2 linked regions of the Homo sapiens genome follow. The protein of the gene in region 1 interacts with the protein of each later gene in a biochemical or structural test. Each region holds a gene or a part of one and is shown on either strand. Other genes may lie near its edges. The genes, in order: ICAM1 and EZR.

Evidence for each region.
Region 2: the proteins of ICAM1 (region 1) and EZR form a complex in vitro, tested with the Homo sapiens proteins (one study listed by BioGRID).

Annotation. Positions count from the first base shown.
Region 1 is NC_000019.10:10,281,014-10,284,326, reverse strand, and holds part of ICAM1 (intercellular adhesion molecule 1 precursor), read right to left. Parts: intron 1,007-3,313; exon of another isoform or gene 877-1,006; intron 847-876; coding exon 541-846; intron 295-540; coding exon 7-294; intron 1-6. UniProt on the Homo sapiens protein: ICAM proteins are ligands for the leukocyte adhesion protein LFA-1 (integrin alpha-L/beta-2).
Region 2 is NC_000006.12:158,767,120-158,770,934, reverse strand, and holds part of EZR (ezrin), read left to right. Parts: intron 1-40; coding exon 41-171; intron 172-990; coding exon 991-1,151; intron 1,152-1,516; coding exon 1,517-1,609; intron 1,610-3,422; coding exon 3,423-3,674; intron 3,675-3,815. UniProt on the Homo sapiens protein: Probably involved in connections of major cytoskeletal structures to the plasma membrane. In epithelial cells, required for the formation of microvilli and membrane ruffles on the apical pole. Along with PLEKHG6, required for normal macropinocytosis.

The sequences.
Region 1 (3,313 bases):
TCTTACTGTAGATGGTCACTGTCTGCAGTGTCTCCTGGCTCTGGTTCCCCAGTATTACTGCACACGTCAGCCGCTGGGTGCCCTCGTCCTCTGCGGTCACACTGACTGAGGCCTTGGCCGAGAAGGAGTCGTTGCCATAGGTGACTGTGGGGTTCAACCTCTGGTCCCCCAGTGCCAGGTGGACCTGGGCCTCCGAGACTGGGAACAGCCCGTCCAGGGAACAGACCACGGTCCCCTGCGTGTCCACCTCTAGGACCCGGGGGCTGACAAGTTGTGGGGGAGTCGCTGGCAGGACTAGGGAGAGAAGAAAGGTGTGAGCAGACAGGGATGGACGTCCCGAAGCCCTTCTCTGGGGCATTTCATTCCCCCTCCTGCGAGATCCTCTTCCAGGGCCACTCAGCAGCCTAGGTCACATACGCCTAGAACACATGCACCCCTTAGCCGGGGCCACACCCATCTCAAAAGATCCTGTGGCCACAGGCACCGCATTGCAGGATACCCCACCCCCACCTTCTCCCTGCTGGCTTCTTCAATCCTCACCAAAGGTCTGGAGCTGGTAGGGGGCCGAGGTGTTCTCAAACAGCTCCAGCCCTTGGGGCCGCAGGTCCAGTTCAGTGCGGCACGAGAAATTGGCTCCATGGTGATCTCTCCTCACCAGCACCGTGGTCGTGACCTCAGCGGGCTCCCCCACAGCTGGCTCCCGTTTCAGCTCCTTCTCCCCACGGAGCAGCACCACGGTGAGGTTGGCCCGGGGTGCCCCACCCTCCACCTGGCAGCGTAGGGTAAGGTTCTTGCCCACTGGCTGCCAAGAGGGGAGGGGTGCCAGTTCCACCCGTTCTGGAGTCCCTGCAGGAAAACAGAGGTGGGGGTGTCTGGTGAAGTGGACCTTGCTGCCTGCCTAACAGACGAACTGCACCTGCCTGGGAGCCCTACCTCTTCAGTATCTCCCCCAAACACGCCCAGACACCTAAGCAGATAGGAATGTCAAGATCTTCAGTGAAAACTGGTAAGAGGGCCCCGAGTGTTTGTGAAGGGGATCAAAATATTCCTTATTCATGACAGCAGCATCTTAGAGTGAAAAGTGGAAAAGAACTTCAAAGTCTATTGCTAGGTGTCTGGTCAAATAAATTCAGCAGCCCAGTGCACTAGACTGGGCAAACAGTGGCTCGATCTTGGCTCACTGCAACCTCTGCCTCTGGGATTCAGGGGATTCTCCTGCCTCAGCCTCCTGAGTAGCTTAGATTACAGGCACACACCACCACACCAGGTTAATTTTTGTATTTTTATTTTTAATTAATTAATTAATTAAGTTTTTAGACTGAGTCTCCTTCTGTCGCCCAGGCTGGAGGGTGATGGCATGATCTTGGCTCACTGCAACCTCTGCCTCCTGGGTTCAAGCAATTCTCCTGCCTCAACCTCCTGAGTAGCTGGGATTACAGGCACGTGTCACCACACCCAGCTAATTTTTGTATTTTTAGTAGAAACGGGGTTTCAGCATGTTGCCCAGGCTGGTCTCGAATTCCTGACCTCAAGTGATCTGCCCACCCCGGCCTCCCAAAGTGCTGGGATTACAGGTGAAAGTAAATGAGCCTGGCCTAGACATTCTTTAAAAAACAAAACAAAACAAAAAAAAAAACCTGTTGGCCAGGTGTGATGGCTCAGGCTGTAATCCTAGCACTTTGTGAGGCCAAGGCAAGAGGGTCACTTGAGGCCAGGAGTTCAAGACAAGCCTGGGCAACATAGGGAGACCCCCATCTCTAAGAAAAATTAAAAAAAGGTTGGCAGGGCGCGGTGGCTCACGCCTTTAATCCCAGCACTTTGGGAGGCCAAGGAGGGTGGATCCACGAAGTCAGGAGTTCGAGATAAGCCTGACCAACAGAGTGAAACCCCGTCTCTATTAAAAATACAAAAATTAGTCTGGCATGGTGGTGCACGCCTGTAGTCTCAGCTACTCGGGAGGCTGAGGCAGGAGAATCTCTTGAACCTGGGAGGTGGAGGTTGCAGTGAGCTGAGATCGTGCCACTGCACTCCAGCCTAGGTGACAGAGCGAGACTCCATCTCAAAATAAATGAATGAATGAATGAATGAATGGTTAACTGGGTGTGGTGGTGCACACCTGTAGTCCCTGCTACTTGGGAGGCTGAGGCAGGAGGATCACTTGAGCCCAGGAGTTTAAGGCTATAGTGAACTGTGATCATGCCACTGTACTTTAGCCTGGGAAAGAAAGACCCTGTTTCTATTAAAAAAAAAAAAAAGTCAGTAATGACAGAGTCTAATAACAAAAAGGCTGCGTGTGGTGGCTCACGCCTGTAATCCCAACACTTTGGGGGGCCGAGGCAGGCGGATCACCTGAGGTCAGGAGTTCAAGACCAGCCTGGCCAATATAGTGAAACCCCGTCTCTACCTAAAAATACAAAAATTAGCCAGGCGTGGTGTTGTGTGCCTGTAGTCCCAGCTACTTGAGAGGCTGAGGTTTACTTGTGAGGAAAGGATTACTTCAGCCCAGGAGGCAGAGATTGCAGTGAACTGAGATCGCGCCACTGTACTCTAGACTGAGTGACAGAGTGAGAGTCTCTCTCAGAGGAAAAAAAAAAAAAAAAAAAAAGCATCAGGACCGGGGGGGTCCTGCATTTGATACCCAGCCTTGCTTCTTTGCTGTGGGTAAGTGACTTTGTCTCTCTGAACCTCAGTTTCCTGAACTGTAAAATAGGGCTATTAAAGGTAGGAGAATTCACTTAAGAGGTAGACAGAGTCGCTGTACATAAGCAGGAGGTTTCTTTTTTAGAGTGATTGAAATATTTTAAAATTAGATTGTAGTCATGGTTGTTTGTACAGAAGTCATTGAATTATGTGCTTAAAAGGGATGAATCTTATGGTATTCTAAATCGTATCTCAAGAAAGCAAGGCTGGGGCATGGTGGCTCACATCTGTAATCCCAGTACTTTGGGATGCCAAGGCGGGGTCATTTGAGGCCAGGAGTTCAAGGCTAGCTTGGGCAACATTGCAAGACCTCATTTCTCCAAAAAAAAAAAAAAAAATTAAAAACAAGCTGGGCTTCGGCATGGCGTGGTGGCTTATGCCTGTAATCCCAGCACTTTGGGAGGCCAGAACAGATGGATCACCGGAAGTCAGGAGTTCAAGACCAGCCTGGCCAGGCCAGACATGGTGGCTCACGCCTGTAATCCCAGCACTTTGGGAGGCCAAGGCGGGCGGATCACGAGGTCAGGAGATCAAGACCATCCTGGCTAACACGGTGAAACCCCGTCTCTACTAAAAATACAAAAAATTAGCCAGGCGTGGTGGTGGGCGCCTG
Region 2 (3,815 bases), on another chromosome or scaffold:
AGAGTCTAAATCTCCCTGTGCCTCTTTTTCCCTGCACCAGGCAACAGCTGGAAACAGAGAAGAAAAGGAGAGAAACCGTGGAGAGAGAGAAAGAGCAGATGATGCGCGAGAAGGAGGAGTTGATGCTGCGGCTGCAGGACTATGAGGAGAAGACAAAGAAGGCAGAGAGAGGTCAGGCGCCCTGGGGCTGGCACTCTACACTGGGTCATGCATTTCCACAGAGTAGCAGGGGCCACACCCACCCACCCACTCACCAGGAAGGAAACCAAGAACGTGTCCCACAGCGCAGACTCACAGCCGAAATGATAAAATGGTTATTTGGTTTGGAAAACAGTTCTGTACTTATTTAACTTTGATGCTAGTTGTTCTAAGACTTTGTATTTTAAAATTTCCCTAGTCTTTTGCGGTAAGTGCTCAATCACCCAGTTTCCCCGATGAGGACAGTAAGGTTTGGTGCGGTACAGTGATTTGCCCACAGTCCCCCAGCCCATGACTGACAGGGCCATGCTGCACTGCCCTCGACCTCTAGACTAAAACCCAAAGGCGTGTTCAGAGCCAGACTTCCCAGCACAGCTCCAGTCAACAACCCCAGCAGCTGGGCCGATTACACAAGGCGCCACAGATGCTGTATTCACTGGCAGCCCTTACAGCACACATGGGAAGGGTGTTCTGTGTTCTGAGTGGAGTGTGGACCACCAGCACAGCGGGCGGCTGACCTGGGGAGAGTAGCGCCAAGAGGGTTGAGTCAGGCATGCCAGAGAGAGGGCGCCTGGCTGGCGTTGGACGGGTTTCTAGCCATCTTGAGGAAGTTGTCATGGATACAGCAGCAATGAGCTCTGTGAAGTGCTTTCCTCCAGGGTCACTGGAAGACATCCCCTCAACCTGTGACTTGGTCTAGGGCTCTGTGGCTTTGGGGGTGGGAATGGAAAGCGAGGGCTCCTAGGTCCCTGGGCTGAGGGTTTGAATGGCTCTGGCTTTGTGTCTTTGCAGAGCTCTCGGAGCAGATTCAGAGGGCCCTGCAGCTGGAGGAGGAGAGGAAGCGGGCACAGGAGGAGGCCGAGCGCCTAGAGGCTGACCGTATGGCTGCACTGCGGGCTAAGGAGGAGCTGGAGAGACAGGCGGTGGATCAGATAAAGAGCCAGGAGCAGCTGGTAGGAATGGCCTGAGTTTCAAGATGCTGAATTATAGAGAGGCTGCTTCTGAGGATGGAAAATGTGACACCTGCCTTGTAATAATTGTCATGACTGGAAGCTGTAAACTGATCTGCTGGGGGGCTGAAGGCAGCTGGTGGGGAAGGGGCTGGGCTGTTGCCAGGGTCACCCATTGAAGGTGGGTGTGGGCATCCAGGAAGAGATGCCGGGGGTGCACAATGGACCCTGCTGGCCATGGAGTGGGGGTGGCGGGGACTCAGGTGTCACGTTGGAGACTGCTTGCCAACACACATGAACACTCATTCACAACTGGACTCCGTTGAAAGGATATCAGAACTGACGTGAGCTTGGCATTCCCTTCCCAGGCTGCGGAGCTTGCAGAATACACTGCCAAGATTGCCCTCCTGGAAGAGGCGCGGAGGCGCAAGGAGGATGAAGTTGAAGAGTGGCAGCACAGGGTGAGTCTGCACGGGGGACACCTCCGCACGGCCACAGCACCTGTTGCCCAATTGCCTGCGGTGGGGCCCTTCTGCAGGTGGGTGGGTTGGGGGAGAGGTCTGGCTCAAGCTGCCACATCCCACTGGAAGCTTCTGGGATGTCTCATGATCCTCTGCCAATACCAGCTGTACTACTGAAGTAGACATCCCCAAAGAGATGGGTTTGACTTTGTACACGAGTCAGTGCAGCTGCTGGATTCATAGAGGGAGGACCTCTGATTGACTTTCACCCACTTTGCTCCCTCCACCCCGAACTGTTCAGTGCTGATCTGACAGCCCCCGGTCAGGAACTGGTTTTAAATCTAATTATATATGTGCCCCTTGCAATGGGGTCGCAGTGCCTGAAACACGACCTCCTGCAGCTAGTATATACAGCGGGCACCATGGAAAGATCCAGCTCCTTGGACGTCTCCAGGCTGGAGTGAGAGCTGGGCTCTGCTGCTCATCAGCTATTTGGGGGCTAGTAGCATCACTTCTTCAAGCCTCATTTTCCTCATTGTAGAATGGGGGCAATACCCAACTCATAAGGTTGCTCTGCAGATGCGAGGTCCCATGCCCAGGACCTAGCACAGAGGTTTAGTCAGCTGTAGCTCTCATTGTGGGACGCACACAGAGCTTGTCGCTCCGTCTGGGATCCCCTGTGCCCTCCAGGAAGGCACAGCCCCTGAGAAGCTCTGGGGATGGTTCCCACTGGAGACTGCACACCAGGCTTTAAGCAGCTCCTCTCCTTCACAGACCCGCTGGCCCGTCCTTCCCCCACTGTGGCTTCTCCATCTGTGGAGGTGCCTTCTGGGGACGTGTCTCCCGGCTCTCCAGGGCTGCTGCTGCCTAGTACCTCCTTGCCTCTGTTCCAGCCCCCATTCCCGCTGCCGATCTGTATTAGGCTGTTCTCACAACGGCTATAAAGAACAAGCTGAGACTGGGTAGTTAAAGAAAAGAGGTTTAATTGACTCACAGTCCCACATGGCTGGGGGAGGCCTCAGGAAATTTACAATCGTGGCAGAAGGCGAAGGGGAAGCAGGCACCTCTTACATGAGGGCAGAAGAGAGAAAAGCAAAGGGGGGTAATGCCAAACACTGAAACCATCAGCTCTTGCTCAGAACCCACCCACTAGCACGAGAACAGCATAGGGGAAACCACCCCGTAATCCAGTCACCTCCCACCAGGTAATGCCCCCCACCCCCAGCATGGGGGGATTACAGGTGGAGATGAGATTTGGGTGGGGACACAGCCATATCACCATCCCAAGTTGCAAGCGGAAGACTTTGGTTCTTAGGTTTTTGGAGAAAGTACCTGTTAAGTGAGGAGAGCTGGCTACAAAGCAGATCCACACTAAGCTCAACTCTAGGGCTGGCTGGGATGGAGGCGGGCGGGACTGGGTGTGTGTGAAGCTGTTGGAAGGACTGCAAGTGGCGAGCAGGAGAGCACTTGATAATGACTGTGGCATGAAGGGAGGCTAGGAACAGAGCCCGTTACTCATGCTAACAGGATTTTTTTTCTAAAAATTATATAATGTCTAGAGTTACAGGTAAAAAAAGAAATGGTAGTTTTAAAACTGCCCAGGTTCCGGCATCACAGTTCCTCTTCCTGTCTTGGACGCAGAGGGTTGTAAACCCCCCATGCACCCTGAGGGTGCTCCTCTTCGAAGCCACAGCCCAGCACAGTTCAGTGCTGCCTTAGCCTGCCAGGACAGAGGGAGGTGACAGTCTGTTCTCATAGCCAGGAGGATAGGACTTCTGGGTGAGAAGTCCTCTTATTAATTTGCTTTCCAAAGGCCAAAGAAGCCCAGGATGACCTGGTGAAGACCAAGGAGGAGCTGCACCTGGTGATGACAGCACCCCCGCCCCCACCACCCCCCGTGTACGAGCCGGTGAGCTACCATGTCCAGGAGAGCTTGCAGGATGAGGGCGCAGAGCCCACGGGCTACAGCGCGGAGCTGTCTAGTGAGGGCATCCGGGATGACCGCAATGAGGAGAAGCGCATCACTGAGGCAGAGAAGAACGAGCGTGTGCAGCGGCAGCTGCTGGTGAGGCCCAAGGGGCTCTGTCTCCAGGGAGCCTGCCTCGCTTTTGGAGCAGACAGGCTTGGGGAGGGCAGTGATGTGAGCCAGCCCCACCCAGCACCCCTCTTGCCCTTCCTGTTTTCCTAGGGGACGGGCCGGGCCATA